2 separate regions of the Homo sapiens genome follow, and region 1 is linked to region 2. The links come from fine-mapping of genetic effects on gene expression. Tissue or cell type: Th2 cells. Region 2 holds a variant in brackets; the other region holds the start of a gene. All regions are shown on one strand. Distances are from middle to middle.

Region 1 (5,709 bases), 330 kb after region 2:
TCGAGTGCAATGGAGCGATCTCTGCTCACTGCAACCTCCGTCTCCCGGGTTCAAGCGATTCTCCTGCCTCAGCCTCCCGAGTAGCTGGGATTACACGCATGCGCCACCATGCCCGGGTAATTTTGTATTTTTAGTAGAGACAGGGTTTCTCCATGTTGGTCAGGCTGGTCTCGAACTCCCGACCTCAGGTGATCCGCCCGCCTCGGCCTCCCAAATCCTGGGATTACAGGCGTGAGCCACCGTGCGCGGCCTGATGGATGGAGTTTTTAAAAAACTGCAACGGCAACCCAATATAGAAGGCACAGCAGGAGCCCCGCCCCTTCTGAGTTGGCGGGGCGGGAGTTCCCCAGATGCCGCTGCAGTTGCCCTGCTGCGGCTCTGGCCCAGCATCTCTGTGCTCTTGGGAACCTGTGAAGGCTCCACTGCCCCTCGCAGGCTCGGAAGTGCCTGCTCCTGCTGCCTGGCTTCTCCCTGCTGTTGGTGCCTGCTTCAATCTCGGAGCAAAGTCGGGCCGAGCTAGGGCGCCGTCACAGCCCAGCCGGGAGTGCACACGCTCAGGGCAGCACTGACACGCCAGCCCCCTGCCTCCTTGGCCCCCTCCGGACTTGGGTGCCAACAAGCATCGGAGAACGGCCGAGGGGGGCATGAGGACAGCCTGGTGTTGGCCTGCAGGTACCCCTTGGCATGAACAGCCTGGGCGCCATGAACAGCAGCAGGAATGCAGACAGCTCCTCGGTGGAAGGGGGCGGGTCCCTGGTGAAGCCCCACCTTCAATCCTGGAAGGGCCTGAAGCCTGGGGGCCAGGTCACCAGTCCCAGTACCAGAGCGGGGAACTTGTGGTGCTTTTCCCCAGGCCTGCTCATGGCCACCTATGGCCGCCCATGGACCAATCAGCACTCACTTCTTCCCCTCTGAGGTCCATAAAAAACCCTGGACTCAGCCAGACTCAAAGAGAGGACGGGTAGATGGGGAGAAAACCAGCTGCAGAGAGGAACTACCCTTTCTGCTGAGAGCTGGACACTTGTTGGGATGAACTGCCTACCAGAGAGGAGCTACCCTCTCTGCTGAAAGCTGAACACTTGTGGGGAAACCCTGGCTATGGAGAGGAGCTGCCCACTGCAGGTCTCTTCTGAAGTATTCTGTTGCTCAATAAAGCTCCTCTTCGTCTTGCTCACTCTCCACTTGTCTGCCTACCCCATTCTTCCTGGATGCAGGACAAGAACTCGGGACCTGCCAAATGGTGGGGCTAAAAGAGCTGTAACACAGGCTGGGTGCAGTGGCTCACGCCTTTAATCCCAGCACTTTGGGAGGCCGAGGGGGGTGGGGCGGATCACCTGAGGTCAGGAGTTTGAGGCCAGCCTGGCCAACATGGTGAAACCCTGTCTCTACTAAAAATACAAAAATCGGCCGGGTGCGGTGGCTCACACCTGTAACCCCGGCACTTTGGGAGGCCGAGGCGGGCAGATCACAAGGTCAGGAGTTGGAGATCAGCCTGGCTAACATAGTGAAACCCTGTCTCTACTAAAAATGCAAAAAAGCTGGGTGTGGTGGTGGGCGCCTGTAATCCCAGCCACTTGGGAGGCTGAGGCAGGGGAATCGCTTGAACCTGGGAGGTGGAGGTTGCAGTGAGCCGAGATCCTGCCACTGCACTCCAGCCTGGGCAACAAGAGCAAGACTCCCTATCAAGAAAAAAAAAAAAAAAAGGGAGAGAATGTGGTACATATATACCATAGAATACTTCACAGTCATAAAAAAAGAATAAGATCATGTCTTTTGCAGCCATATGGATGGAGCTGGAGACAATTATCCTAAGCAAACACAGGAACAGAAAATTAAATACCTCATGCTCTCACTTAAAAGCGGGAACTAAACATTAAGTAAACATGGACGTAATGATGGGGACAACAGACACGGTGACCTACTTGAGGGTGGAGAGTGGGAGGAGGGTGAGGATGGAAAAACTACCTATCAGGAACTACGCTTATTACCTGGGTAATAATAATCTGTACACTAAACCCCCAAGACAGTCAATTTATATAACAAATCTGCACATGTATCCCTGTACTTAAAAGTTGAAAAGAGGCCGGGCGCGGTGGCTCACGCCTGTAATCCCAGCACTTTGGGAGGCTGAGGTGGGAGGATCGTTTGAGCCCAACATAGGAAGACTCCTGTCTCAAAAAAAAAAAAAAAAAAAAAAAAATTACCAGGGTGTGGTGGCAGGCCCCTGTGGTCCCAGCTACTCAGGAGGCAGAAGCAGGACGATCCCTTGGGCCCAGAAACTCAAGGCTGCAGGGAACCGAGATCATGCCACTGCTTCCACCCTGGGTAACAGAGCAAGACCCCGTCTCCAAAAAAAAAAAAAAAAAAAAGCAATACAGGGGTACTTAATATTTATTCATATATTTACCTGAGAATCATCAGTTTTACTAAGGCTGTATGATGTTAGCAGATATTGGTTCTATCAGTCTCTCCGCAGACATTTGCTGTAAATAAAGCAGAGAGGCTTTCAGAGTGCACCCTGTTTTTGTTCCTCCATCCTGTTGTCTGGATCCCCTTCTAAAACGTAAGTTCCAGGATGGCAGGAACTTTGTCTATTTGGTTCACACTCGACACAGTTAGTGCTCAAAAATGTCTAACGACACAGGCCTGCTTCTCGGTTTGCACTGCTCCTCCATGGTAGTCTGTGCAGTGGGAGAAGGCAGCCCGGGCCCAGGGTCCACGGAGAAGACGCAAATCGACAGCGCGGGAGCGCGGACCTTCTGGAGGCGCGCGGCGCTTACCGCTGTCCGTCCTCGAAGCCCCGCCCCGGGGCTCCGCCTCCGCCGGCGCGTGTTCCTTTAGGGACCGCGCGCGCCGCGGCCTCGCTCTGGGGCCGGTACTTGCGCGCCCGCACCCCGCGCTCCCCGCCCCGCTCCCCGTCCCGCGCTCCACGCGCGCCCCAGCGTTGGGGGCTTCTCCTCCGCGGCGGGAATGTCTGGCCGGCTCCGGCAGCACGGCGCGGCCCAGGTCCCCGCGCCCACGACGGGCCAGCGCGCTGGGCCATGATCCGGCTGGGCGGCTGGTGTGCGCGGCGGCTCTGCAGCGCGGCGGTTCCCGCGGGGCGGCGCGGGGCGGCGGGCGGGCTGGGCCTGGCGGGAGGCCGCGCCCTACGGGTGCTGGTGGACATGGACGGCGTGCTGGCTGACTTCGAGGGCGGATTCCTCAGGAAGTTCCGCGCGCGCTTTCCCGACCAGCCCTTCATCGCGCTGGAGGACCGGCGCGGCTTCTGGGTGTCGGAGCAGTACGGCCGCCTGCGGCCAGGGCTGAGCGTGAGCGTCCCCGCCCCGCCCCGCGCCGGGCCTCCTTCTCGCCCCGAGCCCCAGACACCGCCCCTGCGCCGGTGACCTTGGACGGTCAGCGCCCCAGCCTCGGGGTGGCCCTCTGATAGAATAGGGTCTGGGGGGGACTAGGGGCCACAGCGCACCGGGAAGATGCGGCCCCGCGCTCAGGATCTGTTGGCTGCCATCCAAGGTTTCTGAAAATGCGGGAGAGTACAAAGTGTTAATATACCTAACTCTGCATTTAAAGCTGACTTCAAAATTTGTGGCATATTTGGCCTCAAGTCGTTTGTTAAATTTTTAGAAAAATAAACGTTATAAGTTGTCCTCTTTCACCCCGACCGCAGTCACATTCCCACTTCTTTGTCCCCAGGACTTTGATGGGTGTCTTTACCCATCTTTTTTACTGTTGTCCATGAAAGCATAGCTTCCAGGGGTATTTGAGGCCCAGAGAGGTTGTGTGACTTTCTGGGGGTCACACAGTGAGTCAGTGGTCCAGGTGAGGTGGGATCCACCTCATGTCTTATCCCCTTGCAGAGCTGGCCTTGCTGAACACCTGAGCTCAACCCCTACCATCCGACTCCCGAGGTGTTCTGTCCAGGATGGATAGAGGGGAAAGATCCAAGGAGGGACGTTTACACACAGATCTTGGTTGGTAAATTTGAAGTATTTTGCAAAAGGAACAGGGGATTTTGGTATGCACAAAATTAAAGAGGCTGAGTGTTTTTTGGCATCCCTTGATTGGCCACCTAGGGTTGCTGCTGGAGGGTTTGATAAAGAGGAGAAGGAAGTTACAAGAGCCCGTTTTTTAGCCACAAGTTCACTGCATCCTCTCTTTTGTTGGGTAGATATTATTATCTCTGTTTTCCAGATGAGGAAACTTGCCCCAAGTCACATGCTGCTCAGGGGCTCAGTCAGGACTCAAACCCAAGTCTGTCTGCCTCCCAAGCACAGTTAGTGCTCCCCACTCCACAGTCCTGTTCTCTGTACTACTGTCTCTAACAAGTGACATTTCTTCTGACATCAGAAAGATGCCTCATCAGTAATGTGGTTTGTTGAGGGACAGGTGTTAAAAAAGGAAACCAAGTACCGTTTGTCTCCATCAACACCAGGCACTTCAGAAGGTGACTTTCACAGAGCCCAGTGTGCTGAGCTCTTCTACAGCGGATGCCTAATGATAAACTTTAAACTGGAGAAAATGCCCTGGTACTTTCTGCAGCCTCAGGAATAGGCTCCAGTGTGTGGCGAGTGTTCATTTATAGGCAGCGCTCGGCATGGGGAGTCTGGACACCATATATCCGCCCGGGAGTGTATTAACGTGGAAACCAAGCCCACCCCCAACTCCGAAAAGTGCAGCAGCTTTTCCAGTTCTTTGTGCAAATATGTAGGCTCTGTACGTGTGGGGTTACTGGTTTCCAAGCACAAGGCAAAGGCACGGGGCAGTAAGGAGGGTGCCTTGGGAGTAATCTGCTGGCTTCCACTACTTCCCTTCCTGAGGCACGGCTTGCTGCTGTGGACATCCCTGGGCCTACCCCAAGCTGGCCCAGTATCTGTGGTTAAAACAACCGCCCCCCCCCCCCCGCCCCCACACACGTGGCTCCTTATGTGTATGTAGGCATTTCTACTTTTCAAAATTCTGCTCTGTCTGTATTCCCTTTGGTCTTCACAGTACCCTATGTGGGATGTGAGGATCAAATGTGTTTCAGTAATAAGCACGCATTTGCCTAGTCCCTGTGGTTCCTGAGAGTGTTGCTGGTATGCTGTCAGGGCATCCTCCGGCCGTCCATGTGACAGGGTGGCTGTCTTTCTGTAGTGTGCAGAACAGCTGGTAGAGGCACTTCCTGTACTGCACACGTGGGATTTAGGCTCCTGCTCATAGGCTGAGATGTGTCTCCCCTCTGGTTGTCACTTTCCCCTTGCCTGACCCTAGAAAAGGTGCTGCATTCTGGCCCTGCAGCAGAACAGGGGAAGGAGAAAGGCAGCGGGGGTTGGGGAGTGGGGAGGAGAGGGTTGGTGTTGGGGGTTCTTCTCCCAGCTCAGCTGCTGTTTTGCTGTGTGACATCAGGTGGATCTCTTCCCCGTTCTGAGCCTCAGTTTTCTGACATGTAAAATGAGGGTCTGCATTTTTGCTTTGCAACTCTAAAAGCAGCAGAATCCTTTTTTTAAAAATGTACTTATTGGCACCTCAACATATAAAACCGATAAAAGCAGAGCTCTTCTGGTTAATGTGGGGAGGATCCTCGAGCTCCCTGAATTGTCCTTTTACCCTGTCTCCCCCTCCCCCTTGTCCCTCATGGCACCTTAAAGATCTCTGAGTCCCTCCAGTTCTCAAGTTTAAGGACTCTACTACCATGGTAAGAGCTGGTCCAGCCTCAGTTTCCACAATGCTTTT
Region 2 (5,709 bases):
AGACTCTCTCCTGCACCCCGAGACCAGAGAGCAGCCAAGGAGGGTGATTCTCAGAGCCCTCTGCTTGTGCCTCCTCACGGGCTTGGCCGGTTAACAGGTGCTGCACCAAGAAAGAGCTCTGTGGTCGGATTAGTTTGAAAAACACTGGGTTAAAGAAAGTCAAGGCAGTTTTTTAACCGCAGGGCTTCTCAGAGCCTTTCCTCATGACTCCCCAAGAGGGGGTCTGGTAGTTTCATCAAAGCACTTTTGTGTGTTTGAGGGATGTCTGGTAGGAAAGACAGTCTTCTTCATTTTACACTGAGGGGAAGCGGCTCAGCCAAGGTCCCAGAGTGGGCCAGTGGACAACCGGCCAGGGCTGATTCGGCAGCACCAGACAGCTTCTGCCACTGCCAGGTCACAGTTCTAGCTGGGTCCTGACTCGTGGCCCCAGAGCACTGGGCAATTTCATCCTGTGTTAAGGCAGCCTCTGGTCACTGCCTTGTCCAAGTCTCTCAGAAACTTTACATATTTGAGCCCCTGGCTGTGTAGATTCTGGGGACTTGGTGGCTGGACACAAAAAAGGACTGAAGAACAAATTTGCTCCCTGCCTGAGGTGTGGGACAGAGCAGCAGGCAGAGGCTGTGAATCTAGGCTGTGCCCCGGGTCCATCTGGCCATGGGTTCTGTCTGCACTAAAGGACCTGGGGCCCTTTCATAAAACCTTAGAAACCCACCCTGATGAAAATGCTATACGGGCCGGGTGCCGTGGCTCATGCCTGTAATCCCAATACTTTGGGAGGCTGAGGCAGGTGGATCACCTGAGGTCAGGAGTTTGAGATCAGCCTGGCCAACGTGGCGAAAGCCTATCTCTACTAAAAATACAAAAAATTAGCCGGGCGTGGTGGTGGGCACCTATAATCTCAGCCACTCGGGAGGCTGAGGCAGGAGAATGGCTTGAACCCGGGAGGCGGAGGTTGCAGAAAGCCGAGATCATGCCATTGCACTCCAACCTGGGTGACAGAGCAAGACTCTGTCTCAAAAAACAAAAACAAAAACAAAACAACAAAACAAAAAAAAAGAAAGCTATAGGATAAATATAAATATAAATATATAACAGAAAAAATGGGTGGAAACTGTTATAGATTAAAACATAGCCAAAAGTCTAATGTGGGACAGGCTGATTTGAACAAGTCAACTGAGAAAGACATTGGTGAGACAGTTGGTACAGTTTGAACCCTGGCGGGCTATGTGATGATGTTCAGGAATTGTTGTTTCAGCAGGGGTGAAGGTATGATGCTTAGTTTTTTGTTTTGTTTTTAGGGTTTGTGTTCTTAAGGAATAAATCCTGTGGTCTCCACAACTCAAACAATCTGGTATTTGAGATTAGCATTAAAATGGTCCAGCGGGCATGTAAGGGGGAAAATGGGGGCTGTGCAGGGGCCATGGTGACAAAGGGAATTCCTGCCGGTGTGGCCAACCCTGCAACCTCAGTGGCTTCTGTCACGGAAGGCAAGCCCCACATCCCAGAGGCATCCAGACTCGGGGCTCTCCATGTGCAGGAGCTTGGGGAGGCTGGGACTGCCCCAGTGTGTGGATCTGCTGTGGGCTTTGCACCTGCTGGACCTTGCAACCCCCACGGCACTCAGGCCCAACCCTCCTCACACCTCCCACCTGCCCTCCTGCCCTCCTGCCCGGCTACTCACAGCGCTCCTCCTGGTCCACACGGCTCCGGCCACCTCGCCTGCTCCGGCCCAGGCCACTCATTACTCAGGATGCTTATTACTAGTCTTAGATTTGATTAGTGCTTGGGCTGCACTTCCTGGGTTTTCCCCTCAACCTGTTGGATGTAAATCAGCCACACCCACTCCCGCCCCCATGCCTGTGCATTGGGTCTCAGGAGCCCAGGTGGGTGGCTGCGGCCCAGGCTCCTGGCGTCCCATGGGGTACACACAGAGCAGTGGAAGGCCTGCCGGGCCTTGCGATGAGGTATTGACTATGGGATGGCCCAGGCTCTTCTAGATCTGGCCTTGGCCATCCCTTGGTCCTCATCTCCTGCCCGCCGGCACACACCCCAAGCCAGGCCAGCTCTCCACCCTCCCAGCATCACTCAGGCCTTTCCCTCTTCCTGGGTATACTTATTCTATTCATTGCCTGGTCGGCTCCTCCTGCTCTTCCTTCAAGGCTCCATTGAGGTGTCACCTCCTCCAGGAAGCCATCCCTGACTGTCCCAGCCTGTCAGGTGGTACTCATTCTCTGTATCTCCTTGACCCTCTCCAACACCTAGCAGAGCACTGGAGAGGCTGAACCCCAGGACCGGACAGCCTGCGTTTGAATCTTGACTCTGCTGCATACTAGCAGAAGGCCTTGGTGGCAATTTATGGAACTCTTCTGTGCCTCCATGTTCTCTGTGTAAAACAAGGATGAGGTCGGGCATGGTGGCTCACGCCTGTAATCCTAGCACTTTGGGAGGCCGAGGCAGGTGGATTGTCTGAGCTCAGGAGTTCGAGACCATCCTGGGCAACACGGTGAAACCCCATCTCTACTAAAAAAAAATACAAAAAATTAGCCGGGTGTGGTGGCGCGTGCCTGTAGTCCCATCTATTTGGGAGGCTGTGGCAGGAGAATGAACCTGGGAGTCAGAGGTTGTAGTGAGCCGAGATCGTGCCATTGCACTCCAGCCTGGGCAACAGAGATGCCATCTCAAAAAAAAAAAAAAAAAAAAGGATGAGAACATTGCCCGCCTCACAGGCGGTTATGAGCATGAAATGAGGGAGGGAGCACAGTTACATTCTTAGAGCAGGTTCTTGGCACACAGTAAGTCCTCAATAAAGGCCGTGGAGGAGGAACATTACAGCCCGTATTGCACTGCATGGCGACTGCACTCCTGTGTCTTCCCCATCGTCTGAAACCTCCCAGGGGATGGGA[G/A]GCCCAGCAACAGCCAAAGGCGGAGTGAGAGGAACGTAAAAGCCAAAGAAAGCCCATGGGCCCTTAGGAAGAAACTGAAGGACGAGGAGGACATGGAGAGGTGGAGAGGAAGGAGGGAGGCTGCAGGAAGCAGCTGGAGCAGGGTGATGGTGCACAGAGCAGGAGAGGAGATGCAGACGGTCAGCAAACACAGGAAAATGTCCAGTCTCCCAAAAATCAGAAAAACAACTGAACAATGAAAAACTAACTTTCAGCCATCAGGTTGCAAAGTTTTAAAGTTGGTAACATCAAGGGCAGGGGGGTGATCTACAGAAGCATGAACTCAGGGCCCACTGGAGGGAGGGAGCTGGCAGCAGCGTTCTGGAGAGTAACCAGCCAGGGTCAGTTAAATGCACAACACACACCTAACCCACCCCCCAGAAATTCTCCTCCTCCGTGAGCCTCCTCATGACAGCGAGAAACGGGAAACAATGTAAATGTCCATGCAGCAGAGGATGCCTGAATAAGCAGGGTGCACAGGCCAGAGCCAGGAATCTATTGCACAGTTAAAAGAATGAGAAATCTCGAAGCTTTCAGGACAGACGCTGAGTAAATAAAAGTAGCTTATAGCATGAGCCTTACAGCATGATGCCTTTTAGTAAAACAAAACCAAAAGCAAACAACATGCACACACACACACACACAGTACAGCGCTGTGTTGTCTGTGATCACGCACACATGACTGTGAAGCATAAGAAGTCTGCAAAGACATGCATGACGAAACTGGCTCTCGCCGGGTGGGGCAAGAGGGAACCAGGACTGGGGGTGACCGTCAAAGGGGACTTTAGCCCTATTTGTAGGGCTAAACATTTTACATTTAGGGCTTTTACATTTGTAGGGGTTTTACATTTAATTACTTGTTTACATTTAATTACTTGTGTCAATGAACAGTGACAAAACCATAGCTGGGCTCTGGCAGTGGATTTCTAAGAGAGAGGTAAGAAAGAGATCCCATTGCCAGGAACTTTCTGCCTGTTGAAATGGGCAAGCCCAAAGTCACTACAGGATGCCCTCACTGAGTCCCCCCTCACCTCCTGTTTGCATACCCCCAGGGTCAGGGCTCTCACCACCTCACGGAGCAGCTGGCTCCCTGGGGGGTAGCTCTGATGGTTAGAAAGCTCAGCTCTAGCCTGGGCAACATAGCGACCCTGTCTCTATAATTTTTTTTTTTTTGAGACCGAGTCTCACTCTGTTGCCCAGGCTGGAGTGTGGTGGCGTGATCTCAGCTCACTACAACCTCCACCTCCTGGGTTCAAGCGATTCTCGTGCCTCAGCCTCCTGAGTAGCTGGGACTAGAGGAGTGAGCCACCACTCCCGGCTAATTTTTGTATTTTTATTGGAGACAGGGTTTCACCATGTTGTCCAGGCTGGTCTCGAACTCCTGACCTCAAGTGATCTACCCGTCTTGGCCTCCCAAAGTGCTGGGATTACAGGCGTTAGCCACTGCACCCAGCCTAATTTTTTTTTTAATTAGCTGGGTGTGGTGGTGTGCACCCGTAGTCCTAGCAACTTGGGAGGCTGGAGGATTGCAACACTGGGCTGGAGCTCAGGAGTTCAAGGCTACAGTGAGCTATGATCACACCACTGCACTCCAGCCTGGGCTACAGAATGAGAACCTGTCGCAAAAAAAGGAGGAGGAGGAAGAAGAAGGAGAAGGAGAAAGAGGAGAAGGAAGGAGAAGAAGGAAAGACAGCAAGTTCAGCTTTGTCCAGTGAGCAGACTGTGCTTCCAGACTGTGCTTCCATGGGACTGAATGCTGCTCTCTGCAGCCACACACATTGTCCTGGAGTTTTAAAGCCAATACCTGTTATGCCTGAAATGAAAAACAAACAAAATCCAGCCTGATTTGGGGAGTGGCTGAGAATTGAATGACAGAGTTCCCTAATGTCTTACTGCCAATCACAGCTTGTTAATGCTTTTGCTCAAATGCAGTTTACAGAGAATGGATTTAATTTGCTTTCTATTTTCTTTAATTAGATGGTGTAATTTACAGACAGTGAAATGCACCCTTTTAAAATGGGAAGTTCAGTAAGTGTTCTCATACATGCACACCCAGGCAACCACAACTCAGATCACAACTCAGAGCATGCACAGCCCCCAGAAGGTCCCTCACTGCCCCTTCCAGCCAGCACACCCCACTCCATCCCCAAGAGAGTCACAATTCTGACTCCTGCCACCACAGATTCATTTTGCTTGTTCCCCAAACTTTGTATAAATGGAAACATACAAATGGGATCGTTTCATGAAACACAAAAATAGATTCCCCCTCTGCACTGGCTCCCCCAGAAGATTGAACAGGTGCTGGAGGTTTCTAAAGCTCATTCTGAGACCAGCCTTTTTTTGAGCTGTCTCCCAAGAGGATGCGGGATTCTAATTTTAAGCTCCACAGCCAAGGTGACAGAAGAGATTTAGAACCCAGAGTAGAGATAACTCATATACCTTAAGGTTTTGGACCTGGTTCATTTATATATGTATAATTAGCGAGTTAAAATGCACACATAGTAAAGAAAAAAATTCAAGCAGTAAAAGAATATGGCGGAAGTAAATTTCTCTCCTGTCTGGTTATCCTAGGCCCATGATGTCCCTACTCAAAGGCGGCAACCCTTAGTGGACCTTGTTCATACAGCCTCCCAGCAAAGCCTAGGCATTTCTGAGCATGTGCGTGTCGCTAGAGGATATATTTCACCTCTCCCTCCCCCTCCATACCTTTTTTTTTTTTTTTTAACACAACTGCTGGCTTATACAGATCAAGGTTGCTGTTTAGCAT

The links. PIP is the estimated chance that this variant, and not a neighbour inherited with it, causes the effect.
Region 1: NT5M starts here. The variant in region 2 is fine-mapped to the expression of NT5M in Th2 cells (Schmiedel 2018, PIP 0.95).

The regions. Positions count from the first base shown.
Region 1 is chr17:17,300,510-17,306,218 of GRCh38, forward strand. It overlaps NT5M (5',3'-nucleotidase, mitochondrial), which reads left to right and starts at 2,864. Exons shown (of 5, transcript NM_020201.4): 1 at 2,864-3,308. The coding sequence starts at 3,042. RefSeq lists an enhancer at 245-820 and silencers at 2,794-2,963, 3,014-3,113, 3,244-3,433.
Region 2 is chr17:16,970,334-16,976,042 of GRCh38, forward strand. TNFRSF13B (TNF receptor superfamily member 13B) reads right to left here and starts at 1,785. Exons shown (of 5, transcript NM_012452.3): 1 at 1,682-1,785. The coding sequence starts at 1,742. It overlaps LOC284191 (a long non-coding RNA gene), which reads right to left. Exons shown (of 3, transcript NR_148948.1): 3 at 5,666-5,709. RefSeq lists enhancers at 3,217-3,386, 3,457-3,506, 5,555-5,684. The variant G/A (reference allele first, on the strand shown) is at 2,904.